Linked DNA regions of Homo sapiens. The protein of the gene in region 1 interacts with the protein of each later gene in a pairwise test. Each region holds a gene or a part of one and is shown in the gene's direction. Other genes may lie near its edges.

Region 1 (3,500 bases):
TTGAGGCAAGGATGCCTTTCTGTGCAAGTGTAGACTCAAGTATCTGACATCTGCACCTCAGTTGGGGCAGAGCACGTGAGTCTTTCACCCAAGAGTCCCAGGGAGTGGAGGGCACAGAAGAGCCACTGGGGGACCTGAGCCACAGCTCCCACTAGCTCTGCCTCTTCCCTGGGGAAAGCAGCTGACACACAGGAGGCTTGCCTCTGTCCAGCTGGCCTGTCCTCTGTGCCTCTGGCAATGTCCTGTGCTTGGGGCACACTGAGCAAGGGGCACCTTCTGACTGGACACAGATATAGAAGCTACATCGCTTGTGAGCCTGCAACAGCCTGGGCCTCCCTCAATGTCAATGTCTGTGTTTTAAACCTGGGAGATTTTTCACTGTGCTGGAACGAAATACCATGTTCCCCTTGTCTTAACCAGGCATGGGCAAGGCACCTATTTATACGCGGAGACGGGCAGTAAGTATGTTGGCACCTGGGTGAACGGACAGCAGGAGGGCACGGCCGAGCTCATTCACCTGAACCACAGGTACCAGGGCAAGTTCTTGAACAAAAATGTAAGTCCATGGGAAGTGACATTTGCCAATGAAGTACAAAATAACCCCCTCTGGCAGCCTGTGCAAATGTGTGACCAGAGAATACCAAAAACTCAGAGAAAACTGAGTCCGGCCTATTCAAATGTGGAGAACAGGACAGCTGTGCCATTCTCTGAGCCTCTGGTACCCACAGAGCACAGAATTGGGGGAAGGGAGGGATTGGCCCGTTTCTCTGGATCTCAGTACAAATTCCCACTGTCTTTCAGCGGGGACCTGTTGCATTGTTATATAACACGAGAGGGCATCTGAACCTCTTGTGTGTATTCCTTCTCATGGGTAAATCAGATACCAAATATCTATTTCCTGCAATTGAGCATAGAGGTGTTTGGGTTTTGTTTCCCTGGAAGGGGAGGTGCGACATCCCTGGGGAGGAAGACCCCCAGCTCCCTCCTCATGCTACAGGCCAGCCTGCGTGCTCCTAGTTGTGGTGGGAATTAAGGCTGCCAAGGGCCTGGCCCTGCGTCTGGAGGCTTGCCAGCTTCTAGCACCCATGGTGGGCCGTTTCTGTTTGGAAGACTCGGTGGTTCCTCTTGCCCTTATTGTACAGAGAAACCTTGAATAATTCAGAAGCTAATACTCAGGCCATCGTGGTAGCTTTGATCAGGGGTTGAGCAGAAACTTTCCCTGAAGAGAGAATTTGCGGAGCAAATTGATGGTGTTAGAAGTTGACAGAGGGAATGTTTAGCTGATACAACGAAGTCTCTTCAGACTCTCTTAGAACCCAGTTTTCATTTACGTATAATTCATGCCCTAACCACAGATTTTACTTTTAGTCTTCATCAAAACAGCACATTCCCCTCAAACCCATACATTGTTTATATAATTCCCAGCAAACTTTCTGTGGGTCTTTTTGGAGGAGATGGGAAGGTGGTTGCAGAGGAAGAGAATTTGATGAAAATGAATCTGGAAGAATCAATCAGCTTGTCCAGCCTAAACCAGTCTGAAAAATCGGGGTAAAAATGGAGGCTTTGTTTTGCTAGTTAGTAAAAAACTTTAAATTATACAAATAATACACAAGTACATTCCAATTGTAAAGCATTTAAACACTAGGATCCTGCCCCACCACCCTGGGCCCAATCCTTCCACACTATTTCTGTGTGTCATGTAAGCACATTCTAATACAGTCATCTGACACAGAATTATTGTTTGGGGGTTTTAATTACATAATTAGGATCATACTGTGTCAGGATACAAAAATATACATAAAGATACATATTTGTCATTTTGCACATTTGGGACTATTGTGTAGGTTAGATAATGGAATTGTGAAACCTTTGAGGATTGGCATTTAGAATCACAATCGGTAGTGCCCATTTTCCTAAAAAGTGGTGTCAGTTTATACTCTTGCCAATAGAATATGAGTCTGTTTATCATATATTCTCATCGATGTTGGATATTCTCAGTCTTTAATGTTGTTTTTGTTCTTTTCCAATCTTATGGGTAAAAAATGTCATCTCATTGTTTTAATGTGTACTTCCCTGATTACTAGTGAGGTCAAACATCTTGTCACATGTTTATTGCTGGTTTGTGTTTCTTCCTCAGAAAATTCCCTGTACATGTCCTTGTGGACAAGTTATCAATACCACAAAACTTCAATAATTAAAACAGTGTGATACCAGGATACACACACACACACACACCAATGAAGCAAATTAGGAAGTCCAGAGACAGTTCCCAGTATATAAAATAATTTCACACACAATAAGCGTGTCAAATTAACAAAGGGATGATGGGAGGAGTCAAGACATAGTGCTAGGAACACTTGACAATTATTTGGGAGGAAAATAATAGTTTTGCCTTCACACAGATGAAGATACTTTCTAGAAGAAGTAAAGATTTAAATGTACCCTAGGAAATATAGAAAAAAAATGTAGATGAATATTAACCTTGAAATGAGGAAAGAGAACTTTCTAAACAGAAATAGAAAGGAAAAACCAATAGGTTTAGCTTTATAAAAATAACTTCTTATAGATTAGAAAATGCTGTAAAGAAAATCTAAGAGATGACTGTTAAATGGGGAGAGAATATTTGCAACATTTAATATATAAAGTGTTTTATCAATCAATGTGATTTAAATGGCTAAAAATCTTGAAAAAAATGCAGGCTTACTAACAACTGAAATGAAGTGAATTAAAATTGTGAGACCCTGTTGTTTTATATAAAAAAACATGTAAAAATAGACCATTTTTACACTCCTAAAATCAAGAGTTTGAGGATCTGGGACTCTTAAGTGCAGTTATGGGAATGAAACGATTAGAGCCTCATCTAATCAAAGCACATGTATGCTTTTGTCCAGAAATTCTGAGAATTTAAGGATGGTATCAAAAGCGTACATAAAGTTTTAACTCAGAGTACGTTTGCTGGAGCGTTCTTTGTAAAAAAAAAAAAAAAATCAGTATCCCAAATACCAACAATAGTAACTGAGTAAAATAGGTTGCAATCCATAGATGAAATAAAGTACCAGGTGGCAACTGTTATTAGGAAAGAATATTTGTAAATACGGGAAGTAGTTCATGCCATATTTCTCAGTAAAAATAGAGTATGAGTTAGTATGTATAATTATGATCAGATTTTTATTTAACCATGTATACTAGAAGCAAAGTTACAAAGAATGCATCAAAATATTAGTAGTAGTTCCATCGGTAGCTAGTTTGCCTATGGATACTGATTCACTGAGGTTTTCTGAAAATGAATACATCACTTTTATAAAAAAGTAAAATGTGGTTAAAGTTTCCAAAAGTAAACAAAACAGGGCATATAAGTTCCAATCCCATCAGCCACGAGTTCACAAAAGCATTCCTTAATCCATGTTACACTTTACCCAATTTGGTGATTTGAGGTGGGTATTGTGGTGGTGACATTTGTATTTTGTATTTTCTGCTGGGTGTTGACACTTAAGAATGGT
Region 2 (3,500 bases), on another chromosome or scaffold:
TGTAGAGGTCAACTTGAAACAGAGTATTAAATATTAGTGGTCCCACTTAATAATATCTAGTATGTGTATGTTTATATATGTACACACACATGCACACCTGGTTTAAAGAAAGCAAGTTCAAAGCTTTTGGATCTCAAGTCCTTAAGAAACTCATGGTCATATTTGTTAATTATCCATTGTATGCAAAGCACCATACTGAGCTTGTGGGAAAGAAGTAAAATTGCTGGAAAGTACAAAATAGACATCATCCCTGGATTCAGGTACTATTAAAAGACATTATTATCTATATAACTAAAGCCCTCAGAGACTCTTGTATAATTTACAAGAGAGGCTTTGGGCTCTTTTTGTTTTAAAGCCTAAATGGAAAAAATGATGCAGCAGCCTGGGAGACTGGCTAACTCCCTCAGCAAGAATGCAGAAGACGTTCTTTACTGTGAGTCTACACGGTATTCCAGGACTCCCTCCACCTGACCAAAGGAGCTATTTAGGGATAAATTACATGAAGAAACAGCCAGGAAATACAGAACAACAAGCAGGCAACAGTGAAATACTATTTAAATATGCTTATTTTATAGTCTAATTGATGGTATAGCATAAATATCTGAATAGGAATTAAGAACTGGTGAATAATTTTCCTTAAGTTTAGAAAATTTTCTAAACATATATTGCTATAAATGTCACCTTTCAGAATATATAAAGTACATGAACTGTGTATCAGAGTAATGTTCTATGCCTCAAATTGTGGAATTTATAAAAATAAATATATTCTCTTTTAGAGCTCGAAATGAGTTGCTGATATTATGTGGTTACATTGGTGCATTACTGGCTATCAGAAGACAGTACCAAAGCATTGTTCCAGCACTTTATGAGTACACAAGGTAAAAAAGGTTTTTTCCTCCATCATGACATTAGAGCAATTTCTCTTGCTAAGATGGATAGTCTCTAAGTGGATTATACAAAGTATCAAATATATTATTACAAGTATCCATCTATTTACTCAGCGTGTGCTTTATAATAAAGCAGCACATAAATTAGGGATGCATTGGGCTGTAAATAATAATAATTTGAATACTAGCTTAAACTCCTAGGATTTATTGATCTTTCATGTCAAGACACTTGAGACAGGCTTTCTAAGGCTTTTACTGCCGTGCAGTGATTTCTTCAAGGACCTGATACTCCCTTCTTTCCACTATGACATTTTTTGGATTATTTCCTCTTGCTTGAGTATCCCATGGTTAGAAGATAGATGCTAGCCCTCCATGAATTACGACTACATTCTGAGTAGGAAAGAGGTAAGAGTGAAAGAGACCACAAAGGACTTTCTCCTGGCAAGACCATTTTATTCAGGAAGGAAAGTCCTCCTTAGGGTTTTATGCCCACATCTCACTAAAAGAAAATAGGAAACTGAATATTTTAGCTTTTCAATCTCTACAGCAGAAAAGGCAGAGTAAAGGGAGTTTGTAAGTAGCAGGTTACTATTTTAATATTTTATATTCAGGCATAACCTGTTAGCCATACTCCTACATTTTATAACAACTTGTTTAACTTCAGCCCTTGTACTTAAAACTTCTTATACTATAAAATAAAATTCACGGTGCCTTCCATAAAAACCTTCTTCCAAGTCTAGTAGTTAGCTAAATGGCTTAGTAGGTAACCATTTTAACAAATGCAGAGGGTCCGTGGTTAAGCAGTCTTTTATTTGTTTGTTTGTTTGTTTGTTTGTTTGTTTGTTTTTGAGATGGAGTCTCTCTCTGTCTCCCAGGCTGGAGTGCAGTGGCACAATCTCAGCCCACTGCAACCTCCGCCTCCCAAGTTCACACCATTCTCCTGCCTCAGCCTCCCGAGTAGCTGGGACTACAGGTGCCCGCCACCACGCCCGGCTAATTTTTTGTATTTTTCTAGTAGAGACGGGGTTTCACCATGTTAGCCAGGATGGTCTCGATCTCCTGACCTCGTGATCTGCCTGCCTCGGCCTCCCAAAGTGCTGGGATTACAGGCGTGAGCCACCATGCCCGGCCGGTTAAGCAGTTTTTCTGAGTTCATATGTGGCAGAGGATTCTAAGAGAAACAGGTTTTCTCATTCCTAACTTCTCCCTATTGCGTAGGTGAAGCACTAGCTGTCACCTAGTACAAATAAGGAATAATATGGAATTAATACTATCAGCATGCTCAGGGAAAAATCTCTTTCTACATAGGTAGCATAACCAAAATTGGAAAGCAACATTTAACAGTATTAAAAGATATTATAGGAGCAGTAGGATATATCACATAGATGTAAAATAATGTTTAATATGTTCAGCTATATATAATGATAAAAGTAAAGAGAAAAATTCTTAATTAAGCATTAAATTAATATCAAAAAGAAAAAGAACGGTTTTTATTTGCAAGGGCAGGAGAGACTTGAGAGAATGTGACTAAGTTTAGGGAATGTGTTAGCTTAGAAAGAGAAATTGATAATTTCCTAATATTAAAGAATGTATCGTCTCTGACAGTTCCATCTTTGTTGTCTTGCTGCTTATAATTATTTTCTTGACCCACTAAATATGTGAGTCCCCAAAGTTTCATTCTCTCGTCCTCTGCTTCCCTTTTTCCTCCTCTCCATCCCACTCTCCTCCCACGGCTCCACTCCCTCCCGTCTCCTTTCTATACGGTGTCCTTCAGAAACCTCACCACTTTTCAGCTTCACCTATCACCTCTATGGAGGTAACTCAGTGTCTTATATTCAGGCATAGCGTACTCTTCAAACTCCTATGTGTATATTCAGCAGCTTGCTAAACTCCAGCCTAAAGTCAGTATGCTCAGAATTCAAATCATCTTTCTTCTCAAATCTCCTTCTCCCGTGTTCTCTTTCTGTCATTCAAGATTAAATGATCAGGGTCATGGTTAAGTGTTCTCTCTCACTGTGGCTATTATTTAACATCACTTAACTTGTCCAACCATTCTTCATACATTATGCAGTTCATTTATTTATCCACTCACTCATTTACTCATCCACCCAATGTTTATTGAATAACTTTGACTTGCCAGGGACTGTGCTAAATATACAGGTGAGCATATATACGCATATACTAGAAAATATTCTATATGTATATTATATATAACGTATAATGTCTGTATACAGAAATATATAAATCTAAAATCACATTTAAAGTTTGTTTGCTTTTTCTGATATCTTAGTTTTTGGTATCAGATGTTAATTTCCTTTTCACACGTTCAGTCAGCTATTAAAACGTCGGGAGGTGTCAGTACCTTTAAAAATTGAATATCTTTCTGAGGAATTGGATGCATGGAGAGCTTGCACACAGTCCACCAACAGGTGAGCAAATATGATATAAAAATTGGAATGCAGAAGGTATTTGATGTTATAGACAAACTTGTTGGAAGTATGTGTGGTCTCATTAATTTTAGCAGAATAATGAATCTTGATTTGTTTGGCATATATGCAGTAATAATTTACAATACCGTACTTTTCTGCCATGTAGTCCTTTGTTTTACTATAA
Region 3 (3,500 bases), on another chromosome or scaffold:
TGCATCTCACAAAATTTTAATATGTTGTATTTTCATTAACATTTAGTTCAAAATGTTATCTAGTTTTTCTTGTGACTTCTTCTTTGACCCAATGATTATTTGGACATGCATTAATTTCCAGATAGTTGGTGTTTTCCTAGTTATCTTATTGTTATTGTCATTTAATTCCACTGTGGTCAGAGAACATACTCTGTATTATTTCATTCCTTTCATATTTGTTGCTTCTTGTTTTATGACCCCAAATGTGGTCTCTCCCAGTACAAATACCACGTGCACTGAAAAAGAATGTGTATTCTGCCATTTGGGGGTTAGATAAATATCAGTTAAGTCAAGGTGGTTGATGGTATTGTTCAGGTCTTCTGTATCCTTGCTGATTTTTTTTTTTTTTTTTTTTTTGGTCTAGTTATTCTTTCAGTTGCTGAGAGAGGGGTGTTAAAATACAGAAGTATGATTGTGGAATTGTCTTTTCTTCACTTTAATTTTTGTAGTGTTGGCTTCATGTATCTTGAAGCTGTATTATAAGACTTACTTCACTTATGACTATCATTATGAGAGATAAGAGAATTCCTGTTTGTCTCTGGTAATACATTTTGTTTTGAAATATATTTTATCTAATATTAATGTAGCAATTCCATCCTTCTTATACTTACTGTTAGCATAGTATATCTTCTTTCATCCATTTAATTTCAACCTGTCTTTACACTTAAAGTGAATCTCTTGCAGATATCATACAATTGGGTCTTGTTTCTTCATCCTAACAATCTTTGTCTTTTAATTGTAGTGTTTAGTCTGTTAATGTTTAATGTAATTGTTTATATGGTTCAGGAATGCACTTGTGCATAATATTTTATTTTTTACTTACATTTACCTCTTCTGTTTTTTAAATTCCTCTTTCCGGCCTTTATTTGGGTTATTTGAATACTTTTTATAACTCCATTTAAATTTTATTATTTGCTTTTTACATAATCTTTTTGCATTATTTTTTACAGTGATTTTCCTAAGGTTTACAGTATACATAAGTTTCCACAGTTTACTTACAGTTCATTTGTGTACTACTTCACATAAATCCAGAAATCTTGTAACCATCCCTCCCATCCTTTTTGTTATAGTTGTTATGTGTAATACATCTACATAACATTTTAAACTCAGAAAGACAATGTGATAATTTCAGTTTTAAACAGTTATATAGTTTATAAAAAAGGAAAAGGAAAAAGGCCAAATAAATAGTATTTTAGCTGTTTCTGACATGTAAGGACTTTAGAAGTCATCACTGTGTCCTAACAAGTAAAAAGCTGAACAAACTGAAAAATCAACAAATCTTAGCTCCATCAGAGAGGTGTGAGGTCAGAGGACAAATCACTGCTCTCAAAATTGGAGAGGTATGGCCGGGTGCGGTGGCTCACACCTGTAATCCCAGCACTTTGGGAGGCCGAGGCAGGTGGATCAGTTGAGGCCAGGAGTTCAAGACCAGCCTGGCCAACATGGTGAAACCCTGTCTCTATTAAAAACACAAAATTAGCTGGGCGTGGTGGTGGGTTCCTGTAATCCCAGCTACTCGGGAGGCTGAGGCAGGAGAATCGCTGAAACTCAGGAGGTAAAGGTTGCAGTGAGCCAAGATTGCACTACTGCACTCCAGCCTGAGTGACAGAGCGAGACTCTAAAAAAAAAAAAAGAAAAAAAAAAAACTCTGGAGAGATAAACAGGCAGATACAAAGAATCACAACCACATCTTGTGAGCAATAATCTCCCAGGGAACCGGTGGCCAGATGGGTAAGCCTAAAATGTAACTGGCAAATTGCTAGAGGCTCAGTGTGGACAACTCTGAAAAAAAACTCCAGGGGGACCCGGTCATGGGAGGACCCCATACTTTTGTGAGCTTTACCTCCAGGAGCTCTATTAGGTACTGACAGTGAATATCAGAGAAAAATCTCCTTGTGCTTCTGGCAGGAGGAAGTGAAAAGGGACCACTTTGGAATATACCATTCTGTTCTTAACAAGACCTGCCCTCAGGAGAAACAATTTTACCAGGGCCTAACCTGCTGGTGTTTTTATCAGAACTTAACCTTCCTGGGGGAAGGGAAATACCTAACACTAGCTACTTCTGGATATTCTGTCCCACCTAATGGCAGGTGGGGGAAGCTGAAAAGCACTTGGGAAGTTCATAGTCCAGGGACACAAGCTCAGCAAGACTGAGCCCTGCTCATAGTATCATAGAACACTTTCCCACCCCAACACCTGAAAACAGGATGAAAGCCCTGTTTACTGCAATTCCTTTTACCCAGTGTATCATGTCTACCTATCAACAGAAAATTACAAAGCATACTTAAAAGGCAGAAAATGCAGTTTGAAGAGACTGAACAAGCATTAGAACCAGAGTCAGTCGTGGCAGGAGTGTTGGAGTAATCAGACCAGGTATTTTTTTAAAACTATGATTAACGTGCTGAGGGCTTTAAGGGAAAAAGTAGACAGTATGCAAAAACAGATTGATAATGTAAGCAAAAGAGATTAAAATTTTAAGAAGCTGGATGTGGTGGCACATACCTGTATTTGCAACTCCTCATAGTGTAGCAGGATTGCTTGAGCCCAGGAGTTCAAGGCCAGCCTAGGCAGCATAGCGAGATCATCTTTCTTAAAAAAAAAAAAAAAAGAAAAAAAAGAAAAGAAAAAGAAATTTTAAGAATTTTTTAAATACTAGAGACCAAAAACACCATAACCGAAAGGAACAGTGCCTTTGACAGGCTCGTTAGTGGATGGTACACGGCCTCCAAGAGATTGTTATTTGAAAGTGGACTTGTATTAGCTGTAAATGCAGATTGCAAACCAATTTAAAAAGTTAAAAAAGAAGTATAGTTGATATGCTAAAAAAGGATACAAAATGGAATTACATATAATAGAATGCTCAGGTAAACCCACAAAAGGTAGAAGAGTATGGAAAACAGAAATAGGAATGAAGAACAAGGGCAAAAAGTAGAAAATGGTAACAAATGTGGTAGATGTTAATTCAGCAACATCAGTAATCACCTTTTTAAATTTTTTTTTTATTTTTTTGAGACAGTCTCACTCTGTCCCCCAGGGTGGAGTGCAGTGGCACAGTCCCAGTCTATTGAAAGCTTTGACCTCCCAGGCTCGAGTGATCCTCCCACCACAGCCTCCCAAGTAGCTGGGACTACAGGCATGTACTACCACACCTGGCTGATTTTTGTGTTTTGTACAGACAGGGTTTCACCATATTGTCCAGGCTGGTCTTGACCTCCTGGTCTCAAGACATCCACCCACCTTGGCCTCCCAAAGTGCTGGGATTACAGGAATGAGCCACTGTACCCAGCCAATAATCCCCTTTTTAAAAAGTTATTTATTTATATTTTTAGAGATGGGGTCTCACTCTATTGCTCAGACTAGAGTGCAGTAGCTTGATCATGACTCATGGCAGCCTTGACCCCCTGGGCTCAAGCGATCCTCCCACATCAGCATCCCGGGCAGCTGGGACTACAGGTGCATGT
Region 4 (4,055 bases), on another chromosome or scaffold:
TCCTCCGCCACAGGGGAGCTAACGTGGTAGAGAGCAGCAGTCTTCAAGCTTTTTGTTTTCAGGACCCCTTAACACTCTCAAAAAGTATTGAGGACCCCCAAGAGCTTTTGTTTATGTGGGATATGTCTGTTGATATTTACTGAGAAATTACATTTTTATTTACATGTGAATTTAAAATATCAGTAATAAACCCAATATAGGTTATGACATAAATCACATTTTTAATGGAAAAACGATTTTACAAAGCAAAATTATTTTACAAAGCAAAATAAAATTAGAGAGAAAGTGTCATTTCTTTACAGTTTTGGAAATCTTTTAAATTTGGAGCTTCATAGAAGTGAAAAGGGCAAATCATGTCTTAACAATATTAGGAAAATTGTTTTTACCTCAGAGACTTCCTGAAAGGTTCTCAAGGACCCCCGGGCTCCCAGGGCTACACTTGGAAGAGCCGTGCATGGAAGGACGACCGTGAACCTTGAAGCTGGGCAGAGTGGGCGGAAATCCCTGCTGATACCTTTTTCTTCTGGTGCGACAGGCCTCACTTTTCTTGTCTGTAAAAGGGAATTACTATCACCTGCCTCAAACGATTGAGAGGATTAAGTAGGGAAAGTACAGAGCACTTGCGATAGCAAGCTTAGGGGGCCTCAGTTTCCTCATTTGTTAGACAAAGGGCTGGACTGAAAAATATCCAAAGCGCTTCCCAGCTTTAACAGGCTGTGGTTGAGCGTGAGAAATGTTCCAGAATTCCACACAGTCCCACTCCAGCTCCAGAGGCTGCGTTTCCCTTTTCAGCTCATGCTGACACAAAGGTACATTCTGTTCAGCGGCGCGTGGAAAAACATGTGAATCCGGTTAGAAGCGCACTTCAGACTCCTCCAGGACGCCCTTGTGCTTCTAATCTTGCATGCTAACTTAGATATGCGTCTGTCACTCACGACATGCCCATGATGCTGCCTAGGGGATGTGTCCCCCCATGCAAAGAAACCCAGGTAGACAGAAGCACAGGGATCCCTAACGCCGAAGCGCCTCCACAAGGCAGTGAGTGCATGTGCCCGTGCAGAGACAGGTGAGCACCGGCGCGCACAGTCGTGCCCAGCAGAGGCACAAGCACAAGCTCACACGCATGCACTCACGCGCAGCCCCACACGCGGATGGCCCCAGAGACCGCCCGGTAGAGCACACAGCGGCCACGCCTCCCCTTCCGTGACTCCCAGGCCCCGCGCCGCCCCGCGCGCGCCCCCGCCGCCCGCGCCGCAGTCCGCAGCCACCCGGCGCGGTCAGCCCCGGCTGCGGCTCCAGCTCCGCGCTCCGCTCTTCTCTCCCGAGCCGGATCGCGGGAGCGAGCAGGGGAGGGGACCGCAGCCGGCGCCCGAGGGCAGGAGGAGTCCGCAGGCGGGCCCCTGGCTGCGGTAGCAGCTGCCGGTGGCAGGGAGGTGCCAGCCCGCGCGGGGTGGCCCAGCCGCGGGAGCGGTGGGGCGGGGGCCGCGGCCGCCGGCCCCAGGGAGAGATCGCGGGCAGCATGGCGGGGCTGCGGGCCAGGGGGGGCCCGGGGCCGGGGCTGCTGGCGCTCTCCGCGCTCGGCTTCTGCCTCATGCTGCAAGTCAGCGCTAAGAGGCCCCCCAAGACGCCCCCCTGCCCGCCCAGCTGCTCTTGCACCAGGGACACCGCCTTCTGCGTGGACTCAAAGGCGGTGCCCAGGAACCTGCCCTCGGAGGTCATCTCCCTGTGAGTGTCCAGCCCTGGCCTTGGGGGTTGGGGAGGGAGAGGAGGCCGAGGACAGCTCTGGGAGAGGACAGGAGAACCCCCGCTCCCCCTCTTCAGAGTGCGGGGACCAGGGGGACTGCAGGGGTCCTCAGGGCTGGAGATTCCAGGCACCAGTCGGGCAGGGAGTTCTGCAGTTTTGCAGGCTCAGCGGCCATGGGTGGGGAAAGCAGGAGTTCACCACCAAGAATGAATCATCATCACCACGAGCGACAGTGAGACCTACTGTGTGCTGTGCTCCAGACTTGGGGGGGTTGCTTACACGAGCATGTGGGCCCCTGCCTGTGATGTCACACCAAGGGCAGGAGAGTGGCGGCCAGAGCAGGATGAGAATGAGCTATGCCCTCCCAGCACCCTGGCATGGGGCACATGCCCGCCACTGACCAGCCACTTGGCACTCAGCTCGGCCAGCCTGTCACTCACAACAGCCAGCCTCAGGGGCTCCCCCTTGTCTGTGGGACCAGAGAGGTTGTGAGGTCCTTGGGGACCAGGATGCCAGCCCCCACCCCCATGCCCCATCTCTCAACAGCACCCAGCCCATTGTGGGTGTTTGGATGATGATGACAACGGTGTGGGTGATGGAACCTTTTCTTGCCTGAGAGGGAAGCTGAGCCTGGGGCCATGGGTGCCCCAAGAGGCAATAGGGGAGGACCCTGGTGAAGGCAGGCAGTGAATTTGGGAGGAGAAGGGAAAGACACACAGATGGGGGCTAAATTAGGTGAAATGGGGCATTTCCAGGGCAAGTGAGTACAAAAGCTACTGCCCTCCGTGTTCACCTCTCCCTGCCTCAGCACAGCCCTTGCAGACCCCACAGTACTGACTCGGGTGTCCCCGCAGGACCCTGGTGAATGCCGCCTTCTCAGAGATCCAGGATGGAGCGTTCTCCCACCTCCCGCTGCTGCAGTTCTTGTATGGATAGGGCCTTGTGGAAGGGTTGGGGGAACTATGGGGTGGTAGCAGGGGACAAATCCTGGGCTGGGGAGAGGGAGAGTGGACAGAGGCAGCCTCTGCAGACGAAGATGCAGGTGTCCCTTGCTTTTGTTCTGATAGGATGTACCCAAAAGACGGGGCAGCCTTGAGTCAGGGGAGTCGGGGCAGCAGGAGGACAGCTAGGGATGGCACAGAGAAGCCAAGCAAGTGGGATGCGGGGATGGGCTTGGCTGCTCTGGAAACCCCAGAGAATTGGGTGCGATAGCCTGGGCTAGTGCCCAAGGTGGGCACTGTGGGGCCATCTTAGAGACAGGTGATCCCAGGAATCAGAGTTCCCAGAAAGAGCTGGGGGCTGAAAGAAAGGGATGGCAGGAGTGTCTCCAACCCTACAAGATGCCGTCCATGAGGGACAGTTGTCCATGAGGGGCTGGAATGGGACAGAATGAGGGTGGGGGAGAGGGAGAGGAGATGCCACCCGGGAGGACCAGGAGCTGGCTTGACAAGAGAGCTCTGCCTTGGCCCATGTTTAGGATCCAACAGGGACCCTGGGAGCTTCTGGGGCCAGAACAGGCTCCTGCCTGGCCTTGTTGCCCAGGTGGCCCAGGGATTCCCCATGGGGTCCCCAGGGGTAGCAGCAGGGCAGTCATGTCTTGGGGAAGCCCAGGGCTGAGGCAGCGGGCTGGGGGCTGGGGCAGCAGGCACACCCTTGGAAGCTCTAATTCCACCTTTGTCTCTGCAGGTTACTCAACTCCAACAAGTTTACACTGATTGGAGACAACGCCTTCACAGGACTGTCGCACCTGCAGTATCTGTGTGTGGGAGGGAAAGGGGCAATGGGAAAGCAGAAGGGAGGGGGACCCCAGGCCTGGGAGGCCGAGGGACTGGGTAGGGAGTGGATGAGAATGCCGCAGGAAGGGAAGGTGATGGGAGGCGAGAGCCCTTGCATCCCGTGATGGCAGGACCTGAGCAGAAGGTCGTTTCATTCATTTTGCCTCTACCCTACCTGATGCTCTATCTCTATGGCTTGGTGATGCCAGACTCCATTTGGAAACCTGTCTCGGGGACACGGGCTGAAATCTAGGCTGGGGCGTAGGGCGAGTGCTGCTGGGGGTCTGGCATCCTGTGTGAGCACTGAGGCAAGTTCCCGCTTTCCCCAGCTTCATTGAGAACAATGACATCTGGGCACTATCCAAGTTCACCTTCCGAGGACTCAAGTCCTTGACTCACCTGTGAGTACGTCACACATACACACACTGCACCAAAGCCCCACCTCTCCTGTGGCCTTTGGCCTTGCTCATGATCTTCAGATGACCTGGCGGTCTCTTTTGCAGCTCGCTGGCCAACAATAACCTGCAGACACTGCC
Region 5 (3,500 bases), on another chromosome or scaffold:
GAAGGCTGAAGACCTCAAACACCCCCATGTGTTTCTTCCTGGGCTGGTTATAGCCAGCATTATAGCAAATATAACACTGCTGTTTGCCATTGATTGTGGACCTACTCTGTGCCAGGGGGCTGTCTTTGTGCTTTTCCTGTATTCACGTATTTGATCCTCATGTGTTCCTATCAGGTGGTATGATAAACTAGATTTTACAGATAAGGCAACTGGGTCAGAACGGTACAAGCACTTGCTCAGGGTCTCATGGACAATGAGCGGTGGAGTCAGGATTCAACCCCAGAACTTTTGATTCCAAAGCCCACGCTTGTTCTAAATACTGGGGCATGAAGATGTGGGTATCACATAGCACAGAGCAAAATGGAAATGGAGAGCTGATGCAAGCCTGGAGATCAAGGTGGTTTGACAGGACTCCAAGAGGAGAGATGCTTTCTCATCCAGTGGCAAATGCCAGGTGTCCCAAGTCAGCTTTCTGAGACAGAAAACAGTTTATCCCAGCCTCTTTCATACCTACTTTGATGGCTTGTGCGTGAGCCTTATTCTCATCTTACTCATGCTATTCCTGCAGCCTGGACTGTCATCCTAGAGGAGCGCATGGCTGGTTGTGTAGAGAGGACTAAATCAAGTTCCCAACTGGCTGATTTTAACAGTATGATCTTGAGCTATTTACTTTAGTTCTCTAGGCCTGTTTTGGCCTGATATATAAAATGAGAGGATTAGATTTACATTACAAGATTGTTAAGACTCGTCAATATATGTGCATATTCATAGCTCATTGCAAGCACTCAATAAAAATTTGCCATTATTGCTCTACTATTAACCTGGTAAACTTCTATTCATCCTTCAGAACCCAGTCCTAATTCTCCTTTTCTGTGAAGTCTTCTCTTGCTTCTCTCCTGTCTATGCCAATTATGAATGATCCTCTTGACCCCTTATCACATTTTATCCCTCTACTATGGGTAATTCATACACTGATAATGCCTGAGTTGCCAATTTACATAACTCCCTCCCCCTAAACAATGAACTCTTAGAAAACCTCAACTGAATCTTACTCATTCATATGCCCCTTAGCCTGTATCTAATCAGGTATAAATTCTCAACCCATTATGTTAAATGACTTTTCCTCTTAATCTTAGTTTTGGGGAGGTGAAGTTAGAGTCCTGACATCTGAATTTAATTCCTGACTCTCCTATCCTGTGTGGTCTTAGGCAGCCTGTATAAACCTTGATTTTTTATCTGAAAAATGGGAATAATAATAGTGTCCAACCTCATAGGATTGCTGTAGAGGAAAACCAATGAGATAATAGATGTGGAATCACTAAGTAACTCTACAAAAAAGGAGGAAGAGAAAGAAAAATTAAAAAGTGGGAGGAGAGAAATACACTTTGTAAAGAGAAAAGAAAAAACCTTTGTGCAAACACAAAACCACAAGATAGGCCATTCATCGGGTCCTCACTAAAGCCATCTTTCTTTCCAAAGGAAATATTGGATGCAATTGTTTGCCCTGTGCCTAAGCTCATTTCAAAGCAGAAACCTTCTGGACATCCTACTGCTTATTGTTGAATCTGCCTTCTCTTAGGTCTCTGGCAGCTGCAAAAACAGCAAATGCCCAGCTGAAAACTGGGACAGTATAGCAAAGTGAATAAAAACCCAGGCTCTAGAGTCAGAGCAGCCTGGGTTTCAGTCTGTTGCTTCTTATTAGATGTGTATCCTTAGTCAAGCCACTTTGTCACCTTGAGCTGGCACCGGGCCTTGCATAGGAGTGAGGGTCTATGATCTGCCCACTTCTCAGGGATAATATGATATGGGAGAGAGGTTGTATAGTTAGAGTAGGCCTCCTTGGTGTCTGTAATATTAATCAGATTCTAGCAGTTATTTGGGATTCTTATCTGCCTCAATCCTCTCCCTGATATTTTCATTTTATTGAGGAAAGAGACCCAGAGACAAGAAAGGGCTTACTCAAAGTCCCAACTGTGAGTGGCAGAGCCAGGACTTGAACCCCTCACTCATGTCTTCTGACTCCCATGCTAAAGTGACTTCCACCTACTTTCAAGAAAAATGGAATCCCTATCCCTCTCAAGTTTATGTCCTGAGACCCAAGGAGTGTGGCAATGGAAGTTTTAAGGGTATCTGTTTTCAGTAAACCACTGGCGTCTATTACCCACATGGGACATTTACATTATGTGGCCATGGAAGACTGACTGCATGAAAGAGGCTTTGGTAGAAGTGGAAATCAAGCCATAGCTCCCTCCTCTGCTGACTTGGCACTTGAATCTTCAAGGCACCAGCAGATAAGCTTGCACCGGGGAATGGTGCCATCCAAGCATCTGGCTTGAGTCAAGCAAGCAAGAGTTAAATGAAGAGGCTCAAGGAGACCCAAGGCCCAGGCTAGGTATCCCTCCTAGGCTTCCTCACTCTCACCATGGGTCATGGATAGTGGCTGATTGAGAAACCCACTGGGGATCTGGGATGTGGAGAGCAGGGAAGGATTGAGTGAGGCATAGCTAATGTAGTTGGTGCCAGCCCGGAGCAAGTAGTAGGGACTGGTGATGTTTTGGGGCTGGAGATTAGAACAAGGTAGGTGGATACAGTATAGCACCTGGGGTCTGGAGCTCAGGACAAGTCTTAGTGGGTATAAGCCTCTGGGTGTCAGTTTCCTTGTCTGGTCTCACCTATTCCCAGTTTAGCTTAGTGTCATAAATTGGTGAGTTCACATTGCCAAAATGGAATGGGCTCTTCAAAGCCGTACACCATAATAAAAAAGACACAGACCCTGGAGTCCAAGAGATATGGGTTCAAACCTAATGCTGTGATCTTGAACAAGTCACTTAACTCTGAGATGATGGGAGTGGGTGGTAGTGATGAGGATGAAGAGGGGAATTATGAGTTGCTGTTGTTACTGATGGACCGAGCTGATTCTCAGGTCAGCGATGGCTTCCAAGAGAGGAAATAGTATATTCTAATGTGATTTTTGTGGTATAGTGCTATGGTTGGAATATTTATGTCCCCTCCCCCGACACCAATGTATAGGTTGAAATCCAACCCCTCTGCTGATGGTATTAGCAGTGGGGCTTTGGGGAATTGATTAGGTCATGAAAGTAGAGGTCCCATGAATGCAATAGGTGCTCTTAAAAAAAGAGGCTTGAGGCCAGGTGTGGAGACTCGTGCCTGTAATCCCAGCAGTTGGGAGGCTGAGGCAGGAGGATCACTTGAGGCCAGGAGCTCTAGACCAGCCTGGGCAACATGGCAAAACCCCATCTGTACAAAAAATTCTAAAAATTAGCCAGGTGTGGTGGCATATGCCTGTAGTCCCAGCTACTCAAGAGGCTGAGATGGGGGGATCCACTGCAGCCCAGGAGTCCAAGGCTGCAGTGAGCTATGACTGCACCACTGCACTCTAGCCTGAGTGACAGAGCAAGACCTTGTATTTAAAAAACAACAAATGGAGAGACACACCTTACCCCTTTCACCATGAGAGGTAGAAATGTTGAAACAAGAAG
Region 6 (3,500 bases), on another chromosome or scaffold:
CTAAAGGGACCTCAAAAAGGAGGGAAAATGGCTTCTGAGTCTGAAACTCTGAATCCCAGTGCTAGGATAATGACCTTTTATCCAACTATGGAAGAGTTCCGAAACTTCAGTAGATACATTGCCTACATTGAATCCCAAGGAGCTCATCGGGCAGGGCTAGCCAAGGTAAGGAGCTGGGATTGTTCAAATGGTTTTGTTACCTAGGGCAGAGCAGTAAGATTTTTTTCCTACATTTGGGCCGGAACTGTGTTTTACTGAAAGTTGGGTGGGGTGATGACTTTAGTGAATGCGGTTCTATTTGCAAGTTAATTCCCGTTGTTAACATCAGAAGCATCTCTGCTTTTAGGTAGGAAGAGAGCTACTTGGAATCTTCAGAAAGGGGGAGGTAAAGAGCTAGTGTCTCCAGGCCTGGCTGCTGTTGTGCCTCAGCCCTCTTGGTGGAGCTGGGTGCTGTGGTGTTATTGAACTGCCAGTGAGTGCTTATGCCATCTGACTTCTCTTGCTCTCATTTCAGTCTCATCCAGCACTCTAGTAGCAATTTGGCTTCCCATGTGGACTTTCTTCAAGGGGAGAGAATGCACTGGCCAGCCAACATGAGTATTCTGGTCCTTGTAATTTGAAATTGGTTTCTGGTTTGTACTTCTTTCTCCTGTGAGTTGGATTCGTTATTTTTCCTGAGTCAAATCAGCTTTTCATATATTCTGTCACAATCAGGTTGAGTGCTGGAAGCTGAAAGAACTGCATTTCTGGAGAGATCCTCAGGAAACTGAGAGGCAGGGACCTCAGTCTAAGCCAGGAGGAAATTTTTTACACCATTTTATGTTGTTTGAATTCCCTACCATATGTGCTTGTTACATTTTCAATATGAAAAGAGAAAGCAAGAACATTGGCTACAAAGCTGAGGACCAGTCTTGGACCCTGGTGCCTCCAGAGACTTGAGACGACCACATCCTCTTTCTTATCTGCAGATACGGCTACTGCTGGGTTAATAACAGCAGGCGGGAATAGCAGGGCCTGCAGTGCAGTTTTTCATAGCACATTGCTTTTTTTGGTTGTACTTTATTAGATTTAAAGTTACCAAAAAAATGTCGGTTATTACAAGTTAAATATTTCAAACGCAGATAAAGAAAAGGCTGATCTTCATCCACCTTCTCCAGTGCCGTCTCCTTAAGTGGTATTAGCTCCCTCCACACCTTTTTCTCTGCTCATACAAACATACACACATATAAAATAGTGTTATTTGTTTTGTTTTTAAAAGAGAATGGCATCATGCCATATACATTCCTGTGTTGGTTCGTTCATTCTTTTTTCTTTTTTTTTTTCTTTTTTCCTTTTTAACAACATATATTCCTCCCTCTAGGTCAATTATGGATTCAACTCATTCTTCTTTTTTCTCATGTCGACTGTCTTGTTAATTTATTACTATTGGAATGGGTAATTTGATTATGTGAGTAAAAACAGAATGCTATTGGAAGGTAGCTAATGTAGAGTCTTGCTCCCTTTCCGTATTTTCTTATATGTCCTTTCAGTGTTGCCTTATGCAGATGCTTGTGAGTGTGTGTGTGTGTGTGTGTGTGTGTGTGTGTGTGTGTTGTTTTCTCCCTTGTTACATAAAGTAAAACAATACTCTCTAATTAAAAAAAAAAAAGCTGTATAGTATTCCATAAAGCAGATCTATCTTACTTAACTATTCAAGATTAGATTTTTTTTGTTTTTTTTTGAGATGGAGTTTCGCTCTTGTTACCCCAGCTGGAGTGCAATGGCGCAATCTTGGCTCACTGCAACCTCTGCCTCCGGGTTCAAGCGATTCTCCTGCATCAGCCCCCCAAATAGCCGGGATTATAGTTGAGTGCCACCACACCAGGCTAATTTTTGTGTTTTTAGTAGAGATGGGGTTTCACCATGTTGGCCAAGCTGATCTCAAACTCTGACCTCAGGTGATCCACCTGCCTCGGCCTCCCAAAGTGCTGGGATTACCGGCATGAGCCACTGTGCCCGGCCTCAAGATTAGATTTTTAAGAATGTTATGCTTCTTTGTAATTAAACTGTAATCTAGTGTGTGAAAAAAGGAAATTCTGTACAAGTATAGAGTTGACCAAATCAAGTAAAGTTGTGTTTGTGATTTTTTTAAAGAGAGCCCTGGGCTAGGAGATTGAGAGAGAATCAAGTCTTTAATCTCCTTTCTTGGTGTCCAAATAAGATACTGAAGCTGGGAACAAGTATTACTTACCTTAGGTTGCTGCAATTAGGCAGCTGGTTGGTGGCAAAAGTGGATCAGGGTTAGCATGCCTGTGACTTACTGTGTTTTGGTGAATGTGGGTAAATCAAAGTAACTGTCTAGTAAAATTGACTGTTAGGTTGGCTGGTAACTACATGCTTCCTGGACTCTGACTGGCTTGCCAGGTTTCTCATCTGTCTTTTTGTTTCTTGTGTTCCCTTCAGGTTGTTCCTCCAAAAGAGTGGAAGCCACGAGCATCCTATGATGACATTGATGATTTGGTCATTCCTGCCCCCATTCAACAGCTGGTGACGGGGCAGTCTGGCCTCTTTACTCAGTACAACATACAGAAGAAAGCCATGACTGTTCGAGAGTTCCGCAAGATAGCCAATAGCGATAAGTGAGTGGAAACCCTTTCTTACCTGACATAGCACCTAGGACCCTGGTGTCTCATCCTCCTAGCATCTCCAGGACTGCTGCTGTCCTGATGAACAGTGTCTTCAGCAGGATGGCTCTGTTCTAGCTGTCTCCCTTTCTGCTTTTTTTATGGAAGCATTCCCTCCTCTCAGGACTGTGTCCCAGTCTAAACCTGTTCCTGTTCTTATAACAACAAATCCCATTGTTTTTCCATCAGAAGTAGAATCATTTTCTGACTCTAAAGTTGCAAGGAGAAAGTTGGATGTGGTGCACAAGGAGCTTTTGCTGGGTATTATCAACCACCTGCTCATCAAAAGTGCTTTAGTTCCACTTCCTCTCTCTCGGGATGCTCTGTGTTTAATTGTGCTGGAATTTCTCACTGCCCATCCAGCCTGCTAGCTCATTTCTGTTTTGACATTAACAGTGTGAGTAAACCACCAAGCTGGTTGCTATTTTCTGTCACTCCTTCTTTCTCTGTACATTCCTGTCTCTTTTAGAGATATCTTTCTTTGTGTAGGCCTGTTTTCAGTTCTTCTCTGCTGTTGGTTTTTTTTTTTTTTTTTTTTTTTTTTGAGATGGTGTCTCACTTTATTGCCCAGGCTGGAGTGCAGTGGAGTGATCTTGGCTCACTGCAACCTCTGTCTCCCAGGTTCACGTGATTCTCCTGCCTCAGCCTCCCAAGTAGCTGGGACTACAGGCACGCGCCACCATGCTTGGCTATTTTTTGTATTTTCAGTAGAGACAGGGTTTCGCCACATTGGCCAGGCTGGTCTTGAACTCCTGACCTCAAGTGATCCTCCTGCCTTGGCCTCCCAAAGTGCTGGGATTACAGGCAAGAGCCACCACTCCTGGCCCTTCTCCGCTG
Region 7 (3,500 bases), on another chromosome or scaffold:
TTGGGAAATAATTTAAAAGCGAAGGTATAGCCTACAAGGAAAAAGAAAGGCAGCGTTCAAGCTCCCCAGCCTTAGCATGTGCTCCTGGACCCATCAGCACACAGAAGAGTCATCAGACCTGATACTGCATGCACTTTGCAAGTCGAAGGCTGGCTTGCCTAGTCATTAGGCTTTTACCTGCTGTTTGTAAGTTAGTCCTTAAAGTTGGCCTCCTGGTTAGCATCAGGTTAAGCATAGTGCAGGGGTCAATGACTGCTTGTTAAATGAATGGAAAATGAGCAGGGAGTGACATCTGCTTCCTGTCCTGCAATATCCTATTGATCAGTTTTAACAATCCCAGGAATTTGTAGATTGCTCTCAGGGAAGCTGTTGCATTTCAGAACATCAAATGACAAAGATTTCATTTTCTTTTGAGTTTGTAAGGCTTCACTTCTTCATCTCCTCTCTAGCCCTACCCCCGCATCATCAAAAGGGATGAAGGAAATTCAGCATGGAATTTTGCTTTATCACATTATGTTATACTATAAACAACCCCAATCATATGTCGTTTTTTTTTTCCCTTCCCAGGTGATCCCAGATATTGCCTGTGGGAATGCCAGTTCTAACAGCTCTGCGGGTGGCCGCCTGGTATCCTTTGAAGTGCCACAGAACACCTCAGTCAAGTAAGAAAATTCTGAGTTACAAACTGTTAAGAGTGATGCTATGACCTATAAGTGGGGTTGTGTCCATCCGCGGACCTGGTGTGTAAGTGGCCTGTCAAGTGAGAATCGTGAACAGATTCCACGGGTAGATGTGGCCCCTGCCATTTGAAAACTAGAGGAAGCGATTTCAGAGGCAATTACAGTGAGGGTTTTCAGGCTGGACAAGTGGAATTGAGAAATTGGACTGGATGAGTCTGGTGTGAGGTGACAAACCGTGAGGCCTTAGATAAGATCTCAGCCAGATTCCTTGTCTCCCAAATGCTTTGCTTCCCAAATTATTGGCCTCTTAAGATTTTATTGGACCATCAGTTACATTCAGATGCATACTTTGCCCCAAATTTAAATTCTACATATTACAATTTTCTCTTTATTTTTTATAATTTTTATTTATTTATTTATTTTTACAGTTTTCTCTTTAAAAGCAAGCGTACAAAGAGAGTGTTTTGTTTAAAATTCAAGCTATTTTAAATGACAGGGTCCATTGTCACCGGTGGGGAAGAGGGAGAGGCATAGGGAAGCAGTGCTGGTTGAGACCTGATATGTGTGGTGCTTTATATGAGGCTCAAGTCAGCAGGTGCCCAGGAGCACAAAGCTGGGGGTGGGGTATGGGCCAGTATTAGGGTGCCCCAGGCCGGCTGACAACCCCCCACTGCCCATCCTTTTCAGTTGCCATTGACTACCACCCTCCCCACACTTTCCATGCAACCTAAGGGGCATTTGCTGTCCAGTCTTTGGGGATTTTTAGAAGACTGGGAACACGTGGCCTGGTTAACCAATCTGTTGCACTGGCTCCCTTTTAAGGGGCCTGCGGGCACTGTAGGTCTCTTCCATGTATCCATCGCCATTTTTGTCTACCTGGCTTTCTAAACAGTGGAGTCCCTGAACATGTTTGGAAGAGGGACTTTGTTACATTGCTCTTGCACCCTGGGTCACCACAGCCTTGAACTCACTCTGGCAGGGGAAGAGCCTGGAAGGGCTGCTTGGGAATTCCTGGGCTCAGGAGGAACGCTCCCATCCGGAGAGGCGGGAGAGGTGAAGCCTGAGGCAGCTTCGAGCTCTACCAGCAGGGGGACCCCGGTCCTAAGCGTTTCTTTCACTGCTCAGACTACAGCTGAAACCCCTGCCGTCCTGGGCTAGTTTTAGGAGCAGGATCTCTAGTTTCCTTTACTCTTAAAACATCTCTCGGCCCTTTCTTGTCTAGATCATATTATCTTACCTTGATAAACCTTTCCAAATTTTCTGGTCTTCTATCTCGTTAAATGCTTTTGTTTTTTTCCTCTCAACAAACCTGCCATTCTCTGAGACTCCCTTAAGCTGCAGAACGGGACCGAATTAGCAGAGTCTGACTCAGACGAAGTGAGATGGGAGTGCCGAATGACCTGAGGGCACTGAATTCACTTGTGGGGGTTACTAGCTCCTTACGCTTTCATTTCCTCATGAATTTAGTCACTGATCAAAGCTTTACTGAGCCCCTGCTGCACGCCAGGAGCCCTGTGCTGGGGGAGCGGATCTGTGCGGAGTCTACTGTGATCTTCTCCAGGAGCACTGGGGAGAATGGGCAGCTGTTGGGATGTTGGGAAGTGGTCAGGAGTCTCTGGGAAGAGGTAATATGTGGGCTAGGAACACATTTCCAAGGTGGAGAAGGAGACAAAGCTTGGGAGGTGAGAAAGAACTGGGTTGGGGTAGCTCGTAGTAGCTGAAGCATTGGGCTGTGAGGAGAAAAGCGCAGGAGGGCAGCTGGGGTTGGGGTTGGGGTTGATGGGCTTTCTGTGACATCCTATTCTCTGTGGGGTGGTTTTGTGTGTTTTTTTTTTTTTTTTTTTTTTTTTTTTTTTTTTTTTTTTTTACCAAAAATGAGCCAGGGGAGGCCTGAAGCATTGGGAGGTGGATTGTATGTGATTGTGTGTGTGTGTGGGTGGGTGGGTGGGGGGTGTTGGGGAAAGGTGACACACTTTTGCTTATTTTGGCAGCATAACTCAGGTGGCTGTGTTGGGTTGCAGTCCACGTTTATGACAAATTTAAGCAAAACTCTTTTTATATTGTGTGGCTATGGAAGGATTTGTCTGAAAGAGAACTCAGTGTACTCTTTTACTGTTCATCAAAGTGGTTACTCAAAGGTGAGTTACCAGTGACTCATTTTGTGGTACACTGTGAACAAGTGGGAGTGTACGCCTTTACAGTGGACGCCCGCGTATCTGTTTATGCCATCGATCTCCTGGTACCTTGGTAGATGCACATACCATCTTTGTATTTATTTTTAATTTGAAGAACTGGTTCTAAGATGAATTTTTCTGAAAGGAGCTTTCTGTTTACATCATTCCTGTTTCCAGGATTCGGCAAGATGCCACTGCCTCACTGATTTTGCTCTGGAAGGTCACGGCCACAGGATTCCAACAGTGCTCCCTCATAGATGGACGAAGTGTGACCCCCCTTCAGGCTTCAGGGGGACTGGTCCTCCTGGAGGAGATGCTCGCCTTGGGGAATAATCACTTTATTGGTGAGTTACCAAAATCTTCTACTCAACACTGCATCTGATTCAACCCAACTTTGGTTTGGTGTTGAGACAGTAGGTAGGGAATTTTGCTCAGATAATCTGAATTCTATCCATCAATGCTATTTCTTTCACTTTGGTAAGGTTTTAGAATAAAAACTGGATTCTAACATAATATTTCTTTTTTTCTTTTTTTTTTTTTTGATGATGGAGTCTCGCTCAGTCACCCAGGCTGGAGTGCACTGGCGCGATCTTGGCTCACTGCAACCTCTGCCTCCTGAGTTCAAGCGATTCTCCTGCCTTAGCCT

What was found.
Region 2: the proteins of RSPH1 (region 1) and WDR17 interact in a two-hybrid assay, tested with the Homo sapiens proteins (one large-scale study listed by BioGRID and IntAct).
Region 3: the proteins of RSPH1 (region 1) and ZNF251 interact in a two-hybrid assay, tested with the Homo sapiens proteins (one large-scale study listed by BioGRID and IntAct).
Region 4: the proteins of RSPH1 (region 1) and LGI3 interact in a two-hybrid assay, tested with the Homo sapiens proteins (one large-scale study listed by BioGRID and IntAct).
Region 5: the proteins of RSPH1 (region 1) and SEZ6L interact in a two-hybrid assay, tested with the Homo sapiens proteins (one large-scale study listed by BioGRID and IntAct).
Region 6: the proteins of RSPH1 (region 1) and KDM4A interact in a two-hybrid assay, tested with the Homo sapiens proteins (one large-scale study listed by BioGRID and IntAct).
Region 7: the proteins of RSPH1 (region 1) and DNER interact in a two-hybrid assay, tested with the Homo sapiens proteins (one large-scale study listed by BioGRID and IntAct).

Annotation. Positions count from the first base shown.
Region 1 is NC_000021.9:42,482,725-42,486,224, reverse strand, and holds part of RSPH1 (radial spoke head 1 homolog), read left to right. Parts: intron 1-420; coding exon 421-556; intron 557-3,500.
Region 2 is NC_000004.12:176,173,841-176,177,340, forward strand, and holds part of WDR17 (WD repeat-containing protein 17), read left to right. Parts: intron 1-776; coding exon 777-878; intron 879-3,217; coding exon 3,218-3,316; intron 3,317-3,500.
Region 3 is NC_000008.11:144,749,032-144,752,531, reverse strand, and holds part of ZNF251 (zinc finger protein 251), read left to right. Parts: intron 1-403; coding exon of another isoform or gene 404-522; exon of another isoform or gene 523-621; intron 622-2,541; exon of another isoform or gene 2,542-2,628; intron 2,629-3,500. UniProt on the Homo sapiens protein: May be involved in transcriptional regulation.
Region 4 is NC_000008.11:22,154,007-22,158,061, reverse strand, and holds the start of LGI3 (leucine-rich repeat LGI family member 3 precursor), read left to right. Parts: upstream 1-1,255; 5' UTR 1,256-1,519; coding exon 1,520-1,725; intron 1,726-2,598; coding exon 2,599-2,670; intron 2,671-3,430; coding exon 3,431-3,502; intron 3,503-3,848; coding exon 3,849-3,920; intron 3,921-4,022; coding exon 4,023-4,055.
Region 5 is NC_000022.11:26,175,962-26,179,461, forward strand, and holds part of SEZ6L (seizure 6-like protein isoform 1 precursor), read left to right. Parts: intron 1-3,500. UniProt on the Homo sapiens protein: May contribute to specialized endoplasmic reticulum functions in neurons.
Region 6 is NC_000001.11:43,653,149-43,656,648, forward strand, and holds part of KDM4A (lysine-specific demethylase 4A), read left to right. Parts: 5' UTR 1-27; coding exon 28-165; intron 166-2,442; coding exon 2,443-2,618; intron 2,619-3,500. UniProt on the Homo sapiens protein: Histone demethylase that specifically demethylates 'Lys-9' and 'Lys-36' residues of histone H3, thereby playing a central role in histone code. Does not demethylate histone H3 'Lys-4', H3 'Lys-27' nor H4 'Lys-20'.
Region 7 is NC_000002.12:229,585,556-229,589,055, reverse strand, and holds part of DNER (delta and Notch-like epidermal growth factor-related receptor precursor), read left to right. Parts: intron 1-567; coding exon 568-662; intron 663-3,031; coding exon 3,032-3,198; intron 3,199-3,500. UniProt on the Homo sapiens protein: Activator of the NOTCH1 pathway. May mediate neuron-glia interaction during astrocytogenesis.